Regions from separate parts of the Homo sapiens genome. Here region 2 is linked to region 1. Evidence: fine-mapped expression QTL. A gene starts in region 1. The other region holds a variant in brackets. All regions are shown on one strand. Distances are between the middles of the regions.

Region 1 (8,502 bases):
GCCAGTCCCTTGTGCCACTGGGCCGCCCTCCTTCCCCGCCCCTAGACCAGCTGGTGTGGCGGGCGGCCCGAAGCAGCGGGGCAGCTCCTACTTACTTCCGACCCAATGGGCGCTTCCTGGACGGTGGGCTGCTGGCCAACAACCCCACGCTGGATGCCATGACCGAGATCCATGAGTACAATCAGGACCTGATCCGCAAGGTGAGTGCCGTAGGCCAGAGGGCCTGGACCCACTGCTCCCTGGAGCCAATCCTGTGTCAGCAAACCATGCTAGGGACCGACCCCCAGGACAGCAGGTGGCTTTTACACACGCACTCATTCATATGTGCACACAGGGCAAATTGATCTCACTGGAACCTGTTCCATGGGTGGGATCTGCCTGAAGCACTGTGCTAAGGGGGATCTGAGGACCACTGTGCTCTAAGTGTGCATGAGTGGGGAGGGCGGCATGCATACCATGAACGTGCCACTCGAGCCAGCCTGGGGACAGGACACATGCTTGCCCTTGAGCTCACCTCTGTGGATAGACAGTCCCACAGGAATGCCTGTCCCCACGGGTTGCCGGTGCTGTGGTGGAGGACCGTGAGGCCTCTGCTAAAAGGCCTGGGGGCTCGGAAAGGGCTCCATGGAACAGGGGACCCATCCTGAGGCCCTTGGGGACAGAGCAGTGCAGAATCAGTGATCTGGAGGAAGAGCAGCAGCCCTCTCTCTGCAGAGGTACAGCAGAGGCTGGCAGGACCCAGCATGCTAGGGGAGGCCCTGTGGCGTGGCGGGCGGTGGGTGACCGGGGTGGGCGAGCGCGGTGGCTGAGCTCAGACCCTGGAGCCAGGGCGCCTCTGGGGGTCCCCGTTCTGCCTGCACTCACTGCAGCTACCTAATGGGGCCATCATAGCGCCTGCCTGGGGAGGCTGCGAGGCCTTGGCATGCTGTTGTCTGTGAAATGTTCACAGCACTGCCGGGAGCCTGAGCTGCATCCTTGCTGCTGTGGTTTCCCGAAGCCCCAGGGCGTCCTGGGCAGCGCAGCAGAGGCTCTGGGCAGACAGAGAAGCGCCCTCTAGGGGCCAGATCGGGCAGGGCGGGCTTCCTGCAGGCGGCAGAGACCGTCAGACTGTCAGACACTAGCCAGTCTAACTCTCCTATTGCGTGCGGATGGGGAGCCTGGGACCCAGAGTGGGAGGCATCACCCAAGATCATCCAGCAAATCGGCAGCAGAGCTTGTTCGGAAGCAAATAAGAGAGGCAGCGGCCGGGCGCAGCGGCTCACGCCTGTAATCCCAGCACTTTGGGAGGCCGAGGCAAGTGGATCATGAGGTCAGGAGATCGAGACCATCCTGGCTAACACGGTGAAACCCTGTCTCTACTAAAAATACAAAAAAATTAGCCAGGCGGGCATAGTGGCAGGAGCCTGTAGTCCCAGCTACTCGGGATGCTGAGGCAGGAGAATGGTGTGAACCCAGGAGGCGGAGCTTGCAGTGAGCCGAGATCGCGCCACTGCACTCCAGACTGGGAGACAGAGCGAGACTCCGTCTCAAAAAAAAAAAAAAAAAGGCAGCACCCAGGGCTCAGGTTCAAGCCTTAGCCCCTACTTCCCTACCACGTGGCCCCTGCAGCTGCTTCCCGGCCTGAGCTTCGCTGAGAGCCCTCATTTGCAAACTGGGTGATCAGTGCCCTCTCCACAGACTGGCTGGAGATTAAATGAAGTAATGATGCAAATACCTGGCAAATCACCAACACCAAGGAACACCGTCTGCCTTTCCTCCCCTGGCCACGACTTGACTTGGGCCAGCATCAGATGGGGTGGGCGGGATCCTTCTTGCAGCTGGTGTATGTGTGGTCCTGTTGGTACACAGATGCTGTCCTGAGCAGATGGCATGTGATGCCCGCACCAGCCGTTCTGGGGTCACGTGCAAGAGGCTGGCTGGAAATCATGCCAGGCATGCTCTTGCCACCAGAGACCTCTTGCCCTGTTCTCATGTGCCCCAGAGCCCAGTCTTGGGCCTCCCCTTGACGCTCCCCTTCGTGCCCCCTACCTGTGGAAGGTCTCTTCTGACTGCCCCTGTCCTGTTCCCAACAGGGTCAGGCCAACAAGGTGAAGAAACTCTCCATCGTTGTCTCCCTGGGGACAGGGAGGTCCCCACAAGTGCCTGTGACCTGTGTGGATGTCTTCCGTCCCAGCAACCCCTGGGAGCTGGCCAAGACTGTTTTTGGGGCCAAGGAACTGGGCAAGATGGTGGTGGACTGTGTGAGTGTGGGCCCCTCCCCCAGGCCACTTCCCTCAGGGTCTGTAGCCCAGGTCGATGGCTTCCCCTCATCCTGTGGGGCCTTTGGTGTTGGAGGAGACAGCAGGGCTCTGTCCATCGCCTTTAGCCAGCTGGAGGGAGAGAGAGTCCACAGTTCAGAGTCTCAGTGCGGGGCAGGGACCCTCAGTGACCACCAGCAGGGGGGTTTTCAAACGCTTTTTAGCTGCGGATCCCTTTCTGCAAACATAGCGCAGTGTAGAAGCCCAGAATGGACAAAGGCTCCAGAGCGGGCTGGGCGCTCACCCTGTAATCCCAGCACTTTGGGAGGCCAAGGCAGGCGGACCACTTGAGCACAGCAGTTTGAGACCAGCCTGAGCAATATAATGAGACTTTGTCTCTACCAAAAAATTAAAAACTAGCTGGACATGGTGGTGTGTGCCTGTGGTCCCAGCTACTCAGGAGGCTGAGGTGGGAGGATTGCTTAAGCCCAAGAGGCAGAGGCTGCAGTGAGCTGTGATCATGCCACTGCACTCCAGCCTGAGCAACAGAAGGAGACCTTGTCTCAAAAAGAAAGAAAGAAAGAGAGAGAGAGAGAGAGAGGAGGGAGGGAGGGAAACTTCAGGGAGAGGGGACATGGAGGCCTGTCGACTCAGCCGCTACCCTTTCCCCCACTCATCATCCCTGAAAGGGCACTGCTGAGACCTCTGCCCCTCTGATTGCACAGCTGGGACAGTCCCTGCAGTCCCAGGAAGGGGTTTTGCCCGAGCCGCTCTGCTGCTGTGTGGCTCAGCCTGACTCGAAAGAGCCTGGGGCTCCCCAGGCTGGGGCTCCGAGAGTGCAGGGCAGGGCCGGGCGGGGTGCGGGCCGGGCGGGGTGTGGGCCCGGCACTCACCAAGGCTGCTTCTCACCAGTGCACGGATCCAGACGGGCGGGCTGTGGACCGGGCACGGGCCTGGTGCGAGATGGTCGGCATCCAGTACTTCAGGTGAGGGCTCAGCCGCCCCAGCCCTTGGCCCCGTGCCCTGGCGTGGTCGGACTCACCGACCTTCCCCTCCCAGCCCTAGTGTGGACTTTCCCTTCCCCAAGGGTCTGCTCTGTTCCCCAAGCCCACCCTGGTCCTAGCTGGCGTCCCCTGCCCAGCCTGAGCATCCTAGGGTGACCCCCTCCTCCCTGGCCCGAACAGATTGAACCCCCAGCTGGGGACGGACATCATGCTGGATGAGGTCAGTGACACAGTGCTGGTCAACGCCCTCTGGGAGACCGAGGTCTACATCTATGAGCACCGCGAGGAGTTCCAGAAGCTCATCCAGCTGCTGCTCTCACCCTGAGGGTCCCCAGCCTCTCACCGGCCCCAGCTGACCTCGTCCATTCAGCCCCTGCCAGGCCAAGCCCAGCCACTGCCCTCCCGGGCAGATCTGGGCCCAGGCACCTCTGAGTCCATAGACCAGGCCTGGGAGAATGCCAAGCTGCCTGCCCGAGGCTGGTCCTGAAGGCCTGTCTCCCACTAACCCCGCCTTCCAGCACTTTCTGTCATTCCAGGCTGGGAAAGTCTAGAGCCCCCTTTGGCCCCTTTCCCTGACTGTCAAGGACAACTGACTCCCCCATCAGCTCAAACATTAAGGGTACCCGGGCACAACCGTACCCCTGCCCCCAGCCCCAGCCTCCCTGAGGGCCTGCCGGGCTGCCTCTGCCCCAGCCCCCAGCAAGGGCACTCCCAGGCTTCCTGGTGGGTGCAGCCCACTCCCTCTGCCCTCTGCTCCGTTCCCTGGGGGCTGGGACTAAAGAAATGGGTGTCCCCCACCCCATCAGCTGGGAAAGCCCAGGCCGCAGGAGTGGGATGCCCGTTGGACTTTGCCCCTCACACTGGCCCAGCCCCTCACACTGCCCCACCCCGAGAACCCTCAGCTCTCAAAGGTCACTCCTGGGAGTTTCTTCTTCCCAATGGAAGTGGCTTAAGAGCCAAAACTGAAATAAATCATTTGGATTCAAGTTCACCTGTGTTGTGTGTGCAGTGGTGTGAGATCCACCTGTTCCCCTGACCCCCGGCTCCCCTCGGCCTTGACCCTTGGCCTTGACCGGACTTTTCCTTTGTACCCGGACACTCTGTTTTCCAGGATCCCTGGGCAGGGACACCTCCTCTTTCCTCTAGGCCTCCCCTAAACCGGCCCTTAGGGTATGCAGAGGCAGCTGCCAGGCCCACATACCCCCGGCAGGCCCAAGGAGGGCCACAATCTTCAACTTCATCTTGGAGGACCAGGGAGAGCCCCATTTGTCACCCAGAGAGGCCGGGGACTCCGCGTGGACAGGCAGCGCGTGTGCAGGGCCGAGGTCTGCCCAGGGCTGGGCAACTCCAGCGTTTGTGCTGCTCCTGCTCCGGCAAGTGGAGGAGCTGGGCGGGCCAGAGCGGCTGTGGGAGCCAAGCTCAGAGGGCGTGGCCCCACTGTGAGCCGCAGGCCTGAGGACAGTGAGAAGTAAAGCGGCGTTCCCCTCCAGGGGCTGCTGCTGCTGGGTCTGGCAGAGAGAGTCCTGGGGGAGGGCATCGGGCAGCGCCCGCCCAGTAAGGTGGGCAATGCCTGGTATAGGCAGGTGGGAGGGCGGGGCCCCCCAGGGTTGGGGTCCTTGAGGAGGGGGTGACCCAGGAGGGGGCTCATCCACATGGGCACTTGTATCAGCCCACAGCTCCAAGGGGTGAATAATTGAAGGGCAGGTCACACGAGCCTGCCCGGCACAGGATGCCTTCCCTGCCGGATCTGGTTACGCCCCAGATCACATTCTGACATCCCGAGTTGGTGAATAATTAAGCTGCCACTCCTCTGAGGCAGGCCTCCATCTCCAGGTCCCTCTCCGAGGCTTCCTCGCTGCCAGCTGAGTCGTGGGCACCTGAGGGACTACCTACCACTGCTCCCGGCTGTGCCATCGCCACCAGCTCCCAGCCTCCTGCTCAGACCCGGGACAGCCCCTCCATGGCCCCCGAGATGGACCAGTTCTACAGGTCCACCATGGCCATCTACAAGGTGAGCACATGGGTGGCCAAGCCAGGCCTGAGCCCCTCCTCCCAGGGCACAGAAATCAGGCCCGCTCTGGAGGACGGAGGGCCAGCCGGGGCTACAGATGTCCTGGAAAGGGAAGCCTGGAGCCAGGCTGGGCCAGGGGTGGGTACGGGGGTAAGGATCCCCGAGAGCACTCAGCCATACAGCGGGAACCCCCAACTCCCAGATGCTGGACAAGGCAGGAGGGAGCCCAAGGCCCAGGGTGGGGAGAGTTGAGTCTGGATGAGAAGGGCCTGGCTGCCCGGCCTGGGAATAAAGAAAGACCCTCCCTCTCTCTCTCTGTCTCTCCCTCTCTCTCTCTCTCTCTCTCTCTCTCTCCCTCTCTCTCTCCCTCTCTCTGTCTCTCTCTCTCTCTGTCTCTCTCTCTCTCTGTCTCTCTCTCTCTCTCTGTCTCTCCCTGTCTCTGTCTCTCTCATTTCTGAGCCCCTCAGACTTCCTACTTCACCCCCGGGGGGTTGTTGCAGCCGCCACAGACATTTATTGAGCGCCTCCTGTGTGCAGGACCCTTTCACCTGGAGGCCTCACACCACCCACCTGTGAGGTGGAAAATGACCACCCTGCTTGATAGATGAGAAAACTGAGACCAAAGAGGTTAAACAGCTCATTCAAGGTCACGGAGGGAGGAAGAGGTGCTGCTGGGATTTGAACCGAGACCCAAGTCCAAGTCCAGGCCCAAGTCCAGGCCCGTCTTCACCATCCGGGGAGCTCTCTGCCCGGCCCCAGCCCGAGGAGGCCCACACTAATCCAGCCACAGCCTTGCCCATGGGGGGCTGTTCTCGGAGGAGGGCGAGAGCTGCCCTTGCCCCGGGGGTGACTGTTGGCAGCCCCAGGCGTGTAGCCCGGCAAGGCCTGGACACAGGGCAGGGCTGAGCCGTGCCCAGTGGGGACCACAGCAGGCGGGCCAGCTTCTGCCCAGCGGGAGGAGGAGAACCTTCCAGGTGCACCATCTCGGGAGGCACCTCGGTCCCGCCAGAGCAGACGTAAGCGGGAGCTGGCTGTGAGGGGACCACAGCTTAGAACAGGACCCCAAAAGATGGGCTCTGAGGTCCCTGCAGCCAAGAGCCAGGATTCTGGGTGAGCCTAGGTTTGTAGATGGGCCCCCCAAAGTCTGGGGCTTCTCACTGGGCTGGGGGTGCCCTGTCCCTGACGCCTGGTGACTTGACTCCATCCGTGGTTCCTTCTCGCTCCCCCATCTCTACACCTTTTTCCTCCCCTGACCCTGGGGTCCAGAGCATCATGGAGCAGTTTAACCCCGCCCTGGAGAACCTGGTGTACCTGGGCAACAACTACCTGCGTGCCTTCCACGGTGAGTGCCTGCCCGGGCCACCGAGCCCCAGCCCTGGGCCTCTGCTGTTCCCACCCACCCAGGCCCCTCCCAGATTCTCTGCATCCCACACCTGTTCATCCTCAACCCTACACCCTCCTACCCACCACCCTCACCCTCACACCTCTGCAGCCAGAGAGGCCTTATGCACCCCCACTCTCCTGTGCCCACGCACCCCAGTCCACACCCAGCACCCCTCATTGCCCCCTCCTTCAGGTGCCTCCAGACACTCCCATGATGCAGTACCAGGCCCTGCAGGCCCACACAGCCCCAGGGCAGCCCCTGACAGTGCATACATTTCTAGGCGTCACCTGGATGCCACCAGCTGAACCCACCCCTATACTCAGTCCCACCTCTGCACCCAGGCTCACACAGCAGCTGGCTTCCTCACTTCAACTGGCCACCACCCACACACCCTGCAGCTGGCCTTGACATTCACTCGGTCCCCGTGCAAACCCTTGTACCCGTCCGCTGTGGCCGCTCATACCTGCCAATAGCACCCCACTACCCACCAGTGCTGATCAACCCTGAACCTCAGGGCCTCCCATCCCCCTGCTTCTTAGATGCTTTCCACGCCACCTCCCTGCCCCCAGCCCTCACCTTATGCCCCTGCACCTGAGTTTCACAGCTCAACTGGTCACACCCTCCTCAGGGGCACACACAGATGCCCACACCCCACCCAGGACAGACACAGTCCCCTCCAGATGAAAAGAGCCTCCAGAAGGGTGGGGCAGAGGCAGGGCTGGACCAGACCTGTCCCTTCTGGTCCACAGCTCTGTCCGAGGCGGCCGAGGTCTACTTCAGTGCCATCCAGAAGATTGGGGAGCGTGCCCTGCAGAGCCCCACCTCACAGATTCTGGGTGAGGCTCCCCCTCCACAGCAGACCCCATTCTTGGGCCCTCCTTTTGCACCCTTGCCCTTCCAGGATGTCCCGAGTCCCTGACACAGGCCTTTCAGCCCAGGGCCCAGAGCCAGACTCTTGTTCTGGGGCCCAGGCTCCCCGCCACCACTCCCTGCCGGGCTGCTCCCAGGCTGGGACACACATGGCCTGGCTCCCAGAGAACCATATGGGAAGTTCCCGGACTTTGGTCCCAAAATCCAGTCTCGGGCAGGCCCTCTGTTGGCTTTCAGCGGAAGAGGGTGGTGGGTGGGCGGGGCAGGCTGCCACACACCAAAGCCACAGCTGCATCCATGCCTCCAGGGGAGATCTTGGTGCAGATGTCTGACACCCAGCGGCACTTGAACTCTGACCTGGAGGTGGTGGTGAGTATCAGGCCCCAGGGCCTGGAGGGGTCACTCGAGGAAAGTGGGCTATGTTCCAAGGAGAGGGCCCAGCCTACCAGATGCCCTTCCCAGGGAGGATGACCGTGGCTGCCCTTCCCAGCACCCGGCTCTGTGGGGCACGGTTCCCTGCAATAGTCGTTCAAGCCTCTAGCAGCCCTAGGAGGCTGGTGGCATTTCTGCCTCCATTTTATAGAGGAAGAAACTGAGTCTCAAAGAGCTAGTCATTGCCTGAGATGCCAGAGTGAATGGAGGCCCAAGGAAGAGAAAGGTCCTTTCACTGCAGCCCTCCTCACTGCAGCCTCCCAGGGAGCAGCCACATGGACCTGACCATGTCACTCCCAGGAGCAGAACCGTTCCACGGCCCCACTGCCCGTAGAACTGAACACAGGCTTCTCAGTGAGGGGTCCCTGGCTCTGTCGATCCAGCAGCTTCTCCTGACACCCCCAACACAGCCCAGCCCCCCGGAAGAGTGGGCCCTCTGCTGGTGTCCCCGCTGCGGGGCTGCTGTCCTGCTGTCCTCTCAGCCTAGAGCCACCGGTCCCTCCCCCTGCCGTCCAGTTGGGAAGCAGCTGTCCCCTCCTTCCCAAAGCCTCCTCTGACTCCCTG
Region 2 (13,227 bases), 33 kb after region 1:
GGCACAAATCCTTTTGCCACTGTCAAGCTTCGTCCCACCATCACCAATGACCGCTCAGCACCCCTCATCCGCTGAGGCGGGGTCCGAGGTCGTACCCCACAGTGCACCTGCCCAGGGGCTGTTCAGAGCTGGCAATGGCAGCGACAGCAGCAACAGCAGCAGATCCAAGAAGCGGGTCCCTGAGACGGGGGGTGGCTGCCCTCCCCAGACCACCCCGGCAGCCTGAGCAGCTCCAAAGCACTGGCTTGGGGTCCGAGACCTTCAAAGTAAAGCAGGCGGAATGGGGGGACAGGACAATTTCTCCCCCTCCAGGGGCTCCAGGACTCTCCCTGGGGGGCCCACCTCTTGCCCCCTAACCTCTTTCCCCCTTTTCTGCCCCCGTGGGGAGGAGCCCCTTGTACCTGCTCCGTGCCCAACACATGCCCTCTCTGTACATCTTTTGTAAATGATGAGAAATAAAGGAAGTGGACGCAAAGTGATGCGGCAGCAGGACTGGTGGTGTCTTATTTGGGGGACAGGGCAGGGGGTGAGGGATAGAGACTCCCCCATTGGAGAATGGGGTCTAGGGGGTACTGAGGTCCTGGCTGTTCCCCGGGAAGCCATCTCACTCCCAGCCCCTTGTTTGTTTGTTTGGAGAACTCTTTAGGGCTGCCCCAAAGCCCTCGCGCTGCAGCCCCCATCTCCACCTGCTCTCATTTCGACCTGTGGGTTTCCTAGGAAGTAGCGGCTGCTCGGGTCAGGGGAGAGGTGGCAGTGGCCAAGGGCTGGGACCACCAGCAAGCTGCCCTCAGGCGGCCTGGACACAGCACCCTTTGTTTTGGCCCCTCCCCCCCCCACATTCCCAGGCACAGGCGTGGATTAGCTTCATTCTAGAGAAAGCTGCCAGCCCCTCCTGGAATGTGGCCTGGGGCGGGGGGTTGGGGCGGGGGCAGATGAGGCACTGAGGTGATTAGAACCGTTGGGGTCTCTTCAGGGCAGGGCTGTGCCCCCAGCACCAGACTAGGACCCCCTGGGCAAGGTCTCTGTGTCTACCACCCCAGGCTCCAGGAGGCACAGGGATTCTCTTCCTCCCTCCTGGACTGGCTTGGGACAGGGAGCCCACCGCCGAGGCCCAGCCTGGCCTGGGGCTCCCAGTCTCTTCTCCCCTCCTGGACAAAAGCCTCTTAGCAGGGGTGAGGTGTGGTGGGGGCACACACTCTAAGCTCCAGGCCTGGGGCAGGGAGCGTCAGGCGGGAGTCGGCCAGAGGCTCAGCCCAGGCTGGTGGGAAGCTGGGGTGTCTGGCAGCCCCCATCCGGGTAAGCTTCACCGGGAGCTGCGGCGGCGGCCCCTCCCTGCAGGCCTCAGGAGATGTGAGGCTGGACCCCCAAACCCACGAGGCAGGCTCAGGTGAGTGTGATGTGAGGGCTGCCTGGGATCACCCTCCTGTCTCCACCTTCAAGTGGCTGCCCCTGTGACAAGAGGACAACAGGCAGGAAAAGCCACAACCTGGTCCTAGTGGAGGAGGGGCAGAGTCCCGGATACCCTGGGGGTGGTGGCACTGCCCAGTGCCAGGAGGGACACTCCAGGCAGGAGGGCAGGAGGCTATCCCCAGCCCCCGGCTCCTGGTGCACCTGTCTCTGAGTACACCCTCCTCATCTGTTATGGGGGCGCTTGTAACTGCTGTGAGGGCCCCGGGTGGAGCCCCAGGAATGAGACAGGCTTTGGAGCCATTCTTTTCATATAGAGGGTTTGAGGTTTGGAGGGCAGAAGGCCACTCTCTCAGTGCTGCTAAGGTTCCTACCTGTCTGGCAGAAGCCAGAGACCTGACTCCTCTCCCGCAAGATTCCCAGCTGGCCTCGGGGTGATCAATCACCCATCTTACATCGGAGGAAAGGGAGGTTGGGAGAGGGGAGGCGACCGGCCCAAGTCAGGGAGGGAATCCATGGCTGAGCTGAGATGCATGGGAACTCAGCTCCCCTGGCTGATATCTGTTGAAAGTGGCTTTTGTCCCCTTAATGTTCTAATGACAATAGTCATTTGTGATCACTGAGAAACATTAGGAACATGGCGGAAGGCTAAAGAGGAAAATCACGCACAGCGGCCCTTTGCAGCCGGCATCTGCCCCTCTGCTGTTTGTTCTGTTGTCCCGAGACCCTCACGCGTACGGGGCGACTTTGGTGCTGGACGCCCACCTCCAGGCACATACCTGCTCCACTTCCCGACGCCTTCCACCTGAGGCCCTGAGGGGCCAGCAGTTGTCCTTCAGAGGGAGCCTGCAGAGGTGCAGAGTCAGGTGGGACCCGTCGTCCTCCCCTCGTCCTTCAGCGCCCTTTGCAGGAGAAGGAGACTTGGGGTGAGAGTCCTACCTCCGTTTCCCCTTTTGGTTCCCAGACCTGAGCCACCCTCACGTGGGTAGCCCTGTGCCTCAGTTTCCCCATGCTTCGTCTCCATCCCCCTCCTTCTCTAGGCTGCTGGCCCAGCCCCTCCCTCTTGTCCCCGCCCCCTCCCAACAGAGGCAGCGATGGGCGCTGGCGGCCCCCGGCGGGGCGAGGGCCCCCCAGACGGCGGCTGGGGCTGGGTGGTGCTGGGCGCCTGCTTTGTGGTCACCGGCTTCGCCTACGGCTTCCCCAAAGCCGTGAGCGTCTTCTTCCGCGCGCTCATGCGCGACTTCGACGCCGGCTACAGCGACACGGCCTGGGTGTCCTCCATCATGCTAGCCATGCTCTACGGCACGGGTCAGTGTCCCCGCCCGGCCCTCCGCCTCCCCGGGACCCCTGGGATCCGGAACCAGGAGACACCCGAGCCCCTGAGCATCCCCCTGACCCTCGGGGTGGCCCCCGAAGTCCCTTCCTGCCTGTGGGAACCCTGGCACCAGAAAGAGGGGAAGAGAGGGCGGGAGGGAGACAGCGGCCAGAGGCGGGGCCGGCCCAGGGGGCTGCCCTGCGAGCTCAGAGGGCCCCTTCTAAGACCACACCCGCCCATTGTAGAGGCAGGAAAGCTGAGAGCCACAGAAGCACTCCCCCTCCCCGCAGCCCTGACCTGTAGGTGGGGGCTTGCTGGAGTTCCCATCCTGGGAGGCGGGGCTGCGGAGGAATCCCAGTCTGTGCCAGGGCGGGACTTGGAGGCTGTGAAGGTTAAAGGGGTGCGGAAGCCCCCGCTCCGCTTGGGGTTTGGGTTCGCAGGATGGGGTGCTCTGGGCCTTGCCCTCGCAGGATGCTGTCTCTTTGGCCTGTCCCCTCCAAGCTGTGTGACCTTGGCCAGACACTGCCCTCCTCTCTGTGTCCCTGAGCCGGAGGTGACCTTATTCCTTAGAGGACTCAAGCCATCCCGGGACCCGGGTGGTGACCCTGCCCTGCCCACAGGCCCCGTGTCCAGCATCCTCGTGACCCGCTTTGGCTGTCGCCCGGTGATGCTGGCGGGTGGGCTGCTGGCTTCCGCGGGCATGATCCTAGCTTCCTTTGCCACGCGCCTCCTGGAGCTCTACCTGACCGCTGGGGTGCTCACAGGTGAGGGCCCCCTGGTCTCCTCTCCGCTGGGTTGGGGGTCGGGGGTTCTTGCTGCAAGATCTGTCCTCGGTTTCCCTATGAGGGACAGTCTTCGAAGTCCCTCGGCTGGGTTCCCGGATCTGCTGGGTTCCCGGGCCTGGCCCCTCCCTCCTGTGGGGGCCAGGGAGGGGCTCTCCGGGGACCCCGGCACAGCACCGCCTCGCCCGCAGGCCTGGGCCTGGCCCTCAACTTCCAGCCGTCGCTCATCATGCTGGGGCTGTACTTCGAGCGGCGGCGGCCTCTGGCCAACGGGCTGGCGGCGGCGGGCAGCCCCGTGTTCCTGTCCGCGCTGTCGCCGCTCGGCCAGCAGCTGCTGGAGCGCTTCGGCTGGCGCGGCGGCTTCCTGCTGCTCGGCGGGCTCCTGCTGCACTGCTGCGCCTGCGGGGCTGTCATGAGGCCGCCGCCCGGGCCGGGCCCGCGACCGCGCAGGGACAGCGCCGGCGACCGCGCCGGGGACGCTCCGGGCGAGGCGGAGGCTGACGGTGCGGGGCTGCAGCTGCGCGAGGCATCCCCCAGGGTCCGGCCCCGCCGGCGCCTGCTGGACTTGGCAGTGTGCACCGACCGCGCCTTCGCCGTGTACG[C/T]CGTCACCAAGTTCCTGATGGCGCTCGGGCTCTTCGTCCCCGCCATCCTGCTGGTGAACTACGCCAAGGACGCGGGCGTGCCCGACACCGACGCCGCCTTCCTGCTGTCCATCGTGGGCTTCGTGGACATCGTGGCGCGCCCGGCGTGCGGCGCCCTGGCGGGCCTGGCGCGTCTGCGGCCGCACGTCCCGTATCTGTTCAGCCTGGCCCTGCTGGCCAATGGGCTCACAGACCTGAGCAGCGCACGCGCGCGCTCCTACGGCGCCCTCGTCGCCTTCTGCGTCGCCTTCGGCCTCTCCTACGGCATGGTGGGCGCGCTGCAGTTCGAGGTGCTCATGGCGGCTGTGGGCGCGCCCCGCTTCCCCAGTGCGCTGGGCCTGGTGTTGCTCGTGGAGGCCGCGGCTGTGCTCATCGGACCGCCCTCTGCCGGTGCGCCCCGAAGGAAGAGGGGGTGGCGAGCCTAGTGCCCCTTAGACCCAGGGAAGCTCCATCCCCCTGTCTCAGATGGAACTTCCAGGGATGAGGGGAAGGGGCAGTCGGGTGGGTGGACTCCCCTTCACGGCCAGTTAGTCCCTCCTCCAAGCCGGACCGCCCGCTCTGGGTGAGGACAGAAAAGCCCAGGAAGGTGCAGGGAAGAAAGCAACACTGGTAGCTGGCCAGATCTGCCATCCCAAGCAGTTGGCACAAGGCCATCTGGAGCGCAGGTGCTTATTCTCATTTTGCAGATGAGGAAACTGAGGCACAAAGCCTTAGCGCAAGTTGCAGCCCCAGAATGAGAGCCTCAGTGTACCTGCTGCTAAATGCCCACGCCTTTAGAATGGTGCATCTAGAATGGTGACTGGAATGGGGACAGTATCTTTGGGAAACTGGTGTTGGGGCCAGAAACAGAGTGGGGGTGCTCAGCGGGCAGATGGGGAGAAGCACTGGTGTCTTTCACTGTGCAGATGGCCTGCTGGCACTTGTCACCGTCACCCTTAGGAAGTCATCGTCATGAGGGTGGTCAGGGAAGGCTTCCTGGAATATCCCCCAGGTGAAGGCACAGCATGGATGGGCAGGGCTTGTTGGGGGGGAACAGCGTCCTTATGCAAGCAAGGCAGGAACCAAAATTGGAAAGGTGGGAGTGGGGGACATGAGGGTTTTCCTGGGTTGTCAAGTTATCTTGAAACAGCAAGGGAGCCTGCCTTTGAGTCCCAGAGGCTAGAGGGCTGTGAGATGGTGCAGTAACCAGGGAGGACACCTTGCGGGGGCCGCAGGCTGCACTGAGATGGGGTGAGCTGCTCGTCCTTCCTTCAGGGCTGGGCTAATCGAGTGCCCTCACTGAGCTCTGTCATCCCACCTGACCCAGTGAGAACGGCAAAGTCCCTGAGCCAGTGTGTGGGCAGGCCACAAAACCAGCCTGCCCAGGCCTCAAGGAACCGTCTTCCATTTCTTGTGTGAATCTGGATGGATCTGATGGGCAGAGGAGGTGCATGGGGTGAGGAGAATGACCTAGAGAGAGGGTGGAGCACACAGACAAACCACACTTTAGGGGGAAATACTTGCAATTAAGAGATTTTCCTGGTCGGGTGTAGTGGCTCATGCATGTAATCCCAGCGCTTTGGGGGGCTGAGGCCAGAAGTCTGAAACCAGCCGGGGCAACATGGCAAAACCCTGTCTCTACCAAAACAAAACAAAACAAAATTAGCTAGGTGTGGTGGCGTGCACCTCTGGTTCCAGCTACTCAGGAGGCTGAAGTGGGAGGATGGCTTGAGCCCAGGAGGTGGAGGTTGCAGTGAGCCAAGATGGCACCACTACATTCCAGCCTGGGCCAATGGAGTGAGACCCTGTCTCAAAAGAATAAGAAAATTCCTGAAGCCAGGTGCAGTGGTTCACACCTGTAATCCCAGCACTTTGAGAGGCCAAGTCGGGAGGATCCCTTGAGCTCAGGAGTTCAGGACCAGCCTGGGCAACACAGCAAGACCCCATCCCTAAAAAAAACATAATAAAAGAGAGACTTTCCTGAGTTTGAAAGTAGTATCTACAAGGGATAGAAGCCTTGAGAAATAGAGAAGGAAATGAGTTACTGGCCCACAAGCCCCACCTGTGCCGATGATGGCTTGGTCTGGGATGCTCATGGGCCTCCTGGGACAGAGGGGTGGGAGGACTAAGCCAAGCCCCTGAGGACCAGGGCATTTACATGGCAACAGCAAGAGGTGGAGGCCCCCAGGAGGGCAGAGCTAAGCCCAGGGCCCCCTCCCCGCTCCCACCCCAGATACCCCACTGCCAAGCAAGTCACAGGACACTTGTGGGGCTTGAATCAGAGGGTGGAGGGGACGCCTCACCAGAAGCCACATATCACTTAAGCAATTGAGGTCCAGGGACAGCAAGTGACATTTTTAAGGTTTCAAATGGCAGAATCCACATGAGGTTTTACATCTGTAAAACAGGAATAAAGAGTGGGCATGTGTGTGTCACCCAGGAGCCTCACCAAGTCAGTGGCACCACCCTTGACCTGAGAGTGCAGGAGAGTGAGGGGAGGACCCCACAGGACCTTACCTCTCCCTCCTCTTCCTCCTCCTCCCCAGGCCGCCTGGTGGATGTGTTGAAGAACTATGAGATCATCTTCTACCTGGCCGGCTCTGAGGTGGCCCTGGCTGGGGTCTTCATGGCTGTCGCCACCAACTGCTGCCTGCGTTGTGCTAAAGCTGCCCCGTCAGGCCCAGGCACTGAGGGCGGAGCCAGTGACACTGAGGACGCTGAGGCTGAAGGGGACTCTGAGCCCCTGCCTGTTGTTGCAGAGGAACCCGGCAACCTGGAGGCCCTGGAGGTGCTCAGCGCCCGGGGCGAGCCCACAGAACCAGAAATAGAGGCGAGGCCGAGGCTGGCTGCCGAGTCTGTATAACTCAGGGTGCTCTGGGTGGGGTGGCCCAGTGACTTGGGAACACAGCTTCTTGTCTCAGAGAGCCTGGTACGCTGGGAGGCTGGTCTGGGGTGGTCACTCCCGGGGTCCACGTCTGGGCTCCAGTTGATCCCCTGGGTGTCTGGGAACTGCCTCCCTCATCTGTGCCCCAAGTTCCGCCAGGCCCTGCCCCATCGCCAGTGAAGCTGCTATGGAGCAACAGGAAACTGGTGATAAAGCTCAGCTGAACGACAGAAGGTTCTATTCCTCCGCCCAGGCTCCGGCTGCCACCTGAGTTGGGGGTCAGGGTGGTGGGAGGGAGTCTGGGAGGTCTCTCTCCAGGCCCCCTAAGCAGGCTTCTAGGTGGGCAGTGTTGGGAGGAAGCGTCAGAGATGGATGAAGAGACCCATCGTTCCCAGGTGTAGAGACACAAGGGGCTGGGCGGGCACAGGGCTCAGGGGCACAGGGCTGGGTGGGCACAGTGCCTGGCTCCTGCCCAGCCCCACTGCTCAGAGCTGTCTGCTGAAGGCCCCCTCGCTGGCATCTGCCTTTTCCCGTGGAGGGAACGAGGGGTTGGCAGCAACTAGGGTTCAAGGTTGGGGTCTGCCTGCAGGCGGGGGGCCCGAGCGGTCTGAGAAGACTCACAGTTCCCAGGGTCAGGGTCGGTTTGAATCCCAGCCCCGCTGACTTCCTTGCTCACTGGAGGCTGAGCATACGACTCCGTCCCCTGGGGTCCTGGGGAGGGTGGGACCAGGCGCTCAGTAACACCATGGGCCCTGCTGCCTTCCACGAGGTGGCCATGTCCCCTCACCTTCCCAGAGGGCATCTCTCCCACTAGAGGATAAACTTGGGTGTCCAGGGCCAGGGGCTTTTGCTGTGGACACTGTGCTGGCAGCCAGGTCATCTGCTGATCCCAGCACCTGCCTTCTCCCCACGGAGCGTCCCACGATCTCCCTCACACTTTGACATCTGACCTCCTGCACTTGGATCCAGGTGCACGAATCTGGCAAGACGCGATGTATTCCCTCTATGCATTTATCCTCCTCCCATACATCACACCCCTCCTTTCTTTGCCTCCCTCCGAATCATGAGCGTGGTGAACAGGCCCCTGCAGAGGAAGCCGCCTTCCCTCCGCAAACTCCCCTCACCTTCCAGCCCGGCCCATAGTGACCCCTCCCCACTGGTCCCTGCTGGCCCTCATTTTCCATCTAGGCCCCAGGAAGGTCTGGGGAGCCCCACAGATGCCTGGCCGGCTTCTACTTATATGGCCTGTGGCTTCCCCTGCACCACTAGAGCAGTGACTGCGTTTGACTTTATTATTATTATTTTTTATTTATTTTTTTGAAATGGAGTCTCGCTCTGTTGCCCAGGCTGGAGTGCAGTGGCACAATCTCGGCTCACTGCAAGCTCTGCCTCCCAGGTTCACACCATTCTCCTGTCTCAGCCTCCCCAGCAGCTGGGACTACAGGCCCCCGCCACCACGCCTGGCTAATTTTTTGTATTTTTAGTGGAGACGAGGTTTCACCGTGTTAGCCAGGATGGTCTCGATCTCCTGACCTCGTGATCCGCCCGCCTTGGCCTCCCAAAGTGCTGGGATTACAGGCGTGAGCCACCGCTCCCGGCCCGTCTGACTTTATTTAAGATTTAAGAGTGCTTGCTCTGTGCCAAGCCCTGTTCTAAGCCCTCTCCAGATGTTCATTTAATCTCCTAACAAGCCAATAAGGTAGGTGCCACACTTCAGATAGGGAAATTGAGGCCCAGGGAGGTCAGGAACGAACCCAGGCTGTCAGTTCCAGCCTGTGCTCTTGGCCTCCACTCTGGCTGCCCCCTTCAGGGAGGCAGTGTGGTCTGTCTGATGGCTCTGCGGGGACCCAGGTGGGCTCCTGGTGACAGCCAGCCCCTCCTCCATGTCCCACCCCTGCCAAGCCTCCCATTTGGGTTTCTGCCCAGCAATGCATGCTCAAAGCTGATGCAGAAACCCTTTTTCCATCCTGGACTCAGCCCACCTCGCACACCCTGTTGCCCCCTCGCATTCTCAGGATGGCCATATTCATCGTCCAAACAGGAACACGTTAGAGTGACAAGGGCCACTATGACTGATTACACCAGGCCGAGGCTGGCCAGGAGAAGCAGGAGAAGTGGCCACCCTGTTTCTGCCACTCTGCAGACACTCCCCATGGCCTCTCCCCACGCCCCTCTTCCCACAGCCCCCGAGCACCTCTCCCCACACGCCTTTCCCCACCACCCGGGCAGCACAGGCGCGCCTGGAGTCAGCACTTACCCCTCACCACCCTCCCCTACTTGGGGGCTCAGTCGCCCTGGCTCCATGTCTGCCCTTCTCTCCCCCAGAGGTTTATTTCCTGTCGGAAGCACAGAAAGGTCACAGATTGGGGGCGGGGGAAGGGGGCGGGGGGTGAGATACAAAAGGTTCCACAAAGCAGAAAGCTTTGGAGGCAGGTGGCAAAGTCAGGCCTTCAGGACAGATCTGAGTTAAAACCCACTGTGTCCCCACACAGGGCGTGGCCTTGGGCAAGATCTTTCTCTGAGCCTCAAATCACCAGCTGTGAGGGGACCACAGTGCTAGCCCTGCAACACTTCAGTGAGGCATAAATGGTGCATAGCAAGGGCGCTGTCAATAGACGGTGGAGGGGAGGGGCAGACAAGGAGGGTCTGAAGCCACTGCGACCACTGCGCCATCCAGGTTTGTGTTTATTCGATACAGGCCCAGAACCCAGCCCTCCTTCAGAGAAGTGGCCGAGCTGGGGGAACAGAATAAATAAAGGCCGCCGAGGTGTGATGGGGACTGGACGGGCCGGTCTGGGGCGAGGCAAGGGTGCCCAGGAGGCATTGACCCCAACCTCAGCTGTCCACGGCTGGCCCCACTCCCAGCAGGCTCCGGGGGCAGTGTGAGCGCCCACAAGGAGCAGGGCTCGGACTCCTGCCACCTCCAAGTCCTTTCTTTTCCTTCCTGCCCTCCCTCTCCTTCCTAAGGCAGGTCCAGAGACCAAGCTCTCCCTCTGGCCGGGGAGCCGGGAGGGGAGGGAGGGTGGAGGGGCCAGTGTCCAGGTCCCAGGCCATGACCCTGGTGCCTGTCCTGGGCAGGAGCCCAGGTTCGCTGTGCGAGGACAGAGGAGCAGGGAGGCAGGCGCCCCAAGCCAGCAGGCCTTTATGCGTCGCCCCCTTGCGCGGCGGCCCCGCCCCGCTCCCAGGCTCCGTCCTCCCACGCACCCTGCCCCCGGCACCACAGCCGCGGGGCACTCAGGAGTCACACCAGCTTCCACCCTTGTCCAAGGGCCCAGCAGCCCCTCGTGTATCCCTGGACGGCTCCCCAGCTGCCGTGTCTTCCTCCTCCTCCTCCTCCTCCCCATCTGTGAACTCCTCCTGGTTGAGGCCATAGGCCAATGTGGTGTGCGCCAGGTCTACCTCGATGGGGAAGACGTCGGCATCCCGCAGCACTGCGTAGCAGTCGTTGTAGTACTTGGACATGGTGGACACGAGGCGCTGCAGCTGGAACACGATGTCCTGGACTGGGGTGGGAGGTCGGGGGACAGGCTGCAGTGGGCTCTGGCTGCCTGCCTCAGGGAGGAGACTCTCCCAGCCCACCCGGCCCACCTCTCGCCTCCCCTGGGCTTCCCACTCGGGCACTTCCCTGACCCCTCATGACCTGGCAAGGGGCGGAGGCAGGGGCCGCCCAGCCCGGGGCCTCCCCGCTCCCAGTTCAGGGAACGCAGGAGGCTGCAGGGTAAATGGATCATGGATGGCAGCCCACGGAGCCCACGCGCACAGGCCAGCTCCACCCAGGCCAGGCTCTGGGCAGATGGCTGGGCTCCTGGAGGGGCTTTACATCTGGGCCGTGGCCTGGCCCTGAGAGTACCCCTCTGGGCCTCAGTTTTCCCACCTCTGAAATGGAGAGCGGACGGGGAGGAGGGCGGCGCTCACCGTGCTTCTGGTCCAGCAGCTCCATCTTCTCCAGCACATCCTTGCGCATCTGGGAGAAGCGGGCGCGCGCCTCCTGGCGGCAGCGCAGGATCAGGCGGTACTCATAGTTGCCGGTGCTCACCCGGTAAAGGGGCTCGCCTAGGGCCTGGGGCGGGGGTGGGACAGGAGTGCCTGCTCAGGGACGGCCTCGCACCGCACTGTGCTTTCAAAGCCACGGCTGTTCTTCATTCCTGAGACCTCATTTCTGAGACTTCAGTGTTTCTCAGAAGCACTCAGTGATAGCTTTGAAGAGAGGAAAAAACCAAACCCAAACCTCTGCCACATTCAATGAACACTGGCCACGAAATGGATCCCGACAGCAGAAAAATCAAACACTTAAAAGCGCCTCATAGGAGTGAAGAAAATCCGATTTCCCTCCAAGAGTCCCCCAGACTGAGGGAGTGGTTCCCGGCCGGGTGCCCAGCACCCCGAGGCCCAGCGAGCGGGACTGGGAAGATGGCCCTAAATCTCCAGGAACGAGAGTCCAGCCAAGTCCCCCCGGTCTCTCCCGGGTTGGCCTGAGCCACCTGCTATCCCTGGCAGACCAGGTGGGGGGAAGTACAAGCCCCCCACCCCCTCCAACACTCACAATGCAGCTGTATTCCTCGTCATCCATCTCCTTCACCTTCAGGCAGTACGACTGTGTGGGACAGGTGAGGCTGTCAGAGTGGCTACTACCCCCACCCCAGGTCCCCAGCTCCACCCCCATCACCCACACGCAGCAGGAGAGGCTGGCGCAGGTGTTCAGGGAGTCCCAGAGCGGGCAGCGGCAGGTGCTGAGGGATGACAGGGCCTGAGGCTTAGGCGGCCGAGTTGACCAAACTCAAGGCCCAAGAGATGCTCTGGGGAAAAAGGGGTCTGTCGTTAAAGGAGCTTAGGAAGACCCTTGAAAATTCACACTGCACATCAGCCTAGCAAAGGCTCTGATAAGTCCTGCAGCAAAGGAACCTTGGCTTGCTTAATAGAGCATTTTCTCTCAATTCCTTTGACTGTAGAATAATTAAATGTAAAACTCACGAACGTTCACTGACACCCATTTTATGCTCACTCACCTAGTCTAACCCATTGTTTAAAGGCAACAAATCCCAAGGGGTCAGAGTGCACACAGCGAGAGCCATGCCCGCCCCAGGCTCTCAGATGCTTCTTTGTGCAGGCGCAGCAGGGCTTTGGCTGCACCTCCCTGGGCCTCTGGGCCCACACCTGGAGCAGACATGCTGTCAGCTCTGGCTGGCCTCGCTGGCCGCAGCATGGCTGACTGAAGTGGGGCAGATCTCCAGGGTGGGCGCTTGCCCTAGCAGCCTGGGCACCTGGACTACTCACCAGGTACTCAAACTTCACGTCCAGGTACTTCTTGATGGTGAGGCGAGTGTCCGGGATGGCTTTGTTGAGGTACGTGTTCAGATCCGTCAGCATCTGGAAGAGGGTGGGTGGATGCTGAGGCTGTCACGGCAGGGGTGTGCCAGGGTGACAATGAATGGCACTGATGCGTCACCCTTGTTGGTGGACTCGACTATCAGAGCCAGATGGTGCTCCCTGATGCCTTGTCCCTCTCAAGGATGAGAAGACTAGTGCCAGGCCTAGGGCAAGCTGTGACTCAGTGGCGAGCCAGGGTCAGAAGCCAGCCCAGAGGTCAATGGCAAGGCCCAAGGGGGCACAGTGACTCACCCACAGTCCACTGTGTGGGTGACTGAGCCAGAGGCTGTACCCAGGCACAGGACTCCAGCATACGACCTTCTCTGCATGCCACACTCTCCCCTCCCCACCCTCACACGCCAGACACACACATGCTCAATAGGACCTACCGGCTTGATGGTTTTCAGAAGCCGAATGCCGAACTTCTCGATGCTGCGGTGGGCATCGGCGAACTTCACAAAAGCCTCGCTCGCAGCTGGCTGGGGCTCCCGCACCCCGATCACGGAGAACACGTCCCCAAAGGCTGCAGGACAAGTTTGCCTTGAAGGCTGCCCCTACTTGGCCCCCTAAGAGAAGCCAGGGGTTTGTTGGGGAGAAGCAGGGCAGGGGGCCTGGCAGGCTGGAAGCCAATGTCTGCACAGGGGCTACACCTCCAAGAGAGCTGGTCTAAACCCCCTGAAGGAGCTGAGTCTACACCTGGAGGAAACTGGATTGACACCTCCAAGAGCTGGTCTGTGCCCCCTAGAGTCCTGAGTGTACACACCAAGGGAGTTGGCCCTCATTCCCCAGAGGGACCAGTGAGAGAAGACTGGGTCAAGGTTTGTGGAGGTGGCGCCGCCTGAGGCAGAACAC

Alleles and levels. Alleles are on the strand shown, and positions count from the first base shown. SD is a standard deviation of normalised expression in the study named.
For the expression in gastroesophageal junction of the gene that starts at base 5,043 in region 1, T is the high allele of the variant in region 2 and C is the other (small effect, 0.33 SD a copy in GTEx).

Evidence for each region.
Region 2: its variant is fine-mapped to the expression of BAIAP2L2 in gastroesophageal junction (GTEx, PIP 0.93).

The regions. Positions count from the first base shown.
Region 1 is chr22:38,107,225-38,115,726 of GRCh38, reverse strand. It overlaps BAIAP2L2 (BAR/IMD domain containing adaptor protein 2 like 2), which reads left to right and starts at 5,043. Exons shown (of 14, transcript NM_025045.6): 1 at 5,043-5,252; 2 at 6,519-6,594; 3 at 7,386-7,472; 4 at 7,814-7,875. The coding sequence starts at 5,202. It overlaps PLA2G6 (phospholipase A2 group VI), which reads left to right. Exons shown (of 17, transcript NM_003560.4): 14 at 46-200; 15 at 2,073-2,240; 16 at 3,150-3,223; 17 at 3,422-4,232. The coding sequence ends at 3,566. RefSeq lists enhancers at 782-961, 311-1,213.
Region 2 is chr22:38,072,148-38,085,374 of GRCh38, reverse strand. It overlaps SLC16A8 (solute carrier family 16 member 8), which reads left to right and starts at 1,191. Exons shown (of 6, transcript NM_013356.3): 1 at 1,191-1,387; 2 at 2,014-2,333; 3 at 2,494-2,715; 4 at 3,343-3,486; 5 at 3,696-4,535; 6 at 6,671-7,238. The coding sequence starts at 2,502. The coding sequence ends at 6,987. BAIAP2L2 (BAR/IMD domain containing adaptor protein 2 like 2) reads left to right here. Exons shown (of 14, transcript NM_025045.6): 14 at 1-475. The coding sequence ends at 75. It overlaps LOC105373027 (a long non-coding RNA gene), which reads right to left and starts at 6,734. Exons shown (of 3, transcript XR_938249.3): 1 at 6,642-6,734; 2 at 6,428-6,521; 3 at 5,008-5,762. It overlaps PICK1 (protein interacting with PRKCA 1), which reads right to left. Exons shown (of 13, transcript NM_012407.4): 9 at 12,765-12,898; 10 at 12,283-12,375; 11 at 11,552-11,602; 12 at 10,924-11,068; 13 at 9,674-10,511. The coding sequence ends at 10,243. RefSeq lists enhancers at 926-1,707, 4,048-4,829, 9,914-10,415 and a silencer at 2,683-2,732. The variant C/T (reference allele first, on the strand shown) is at 4,107.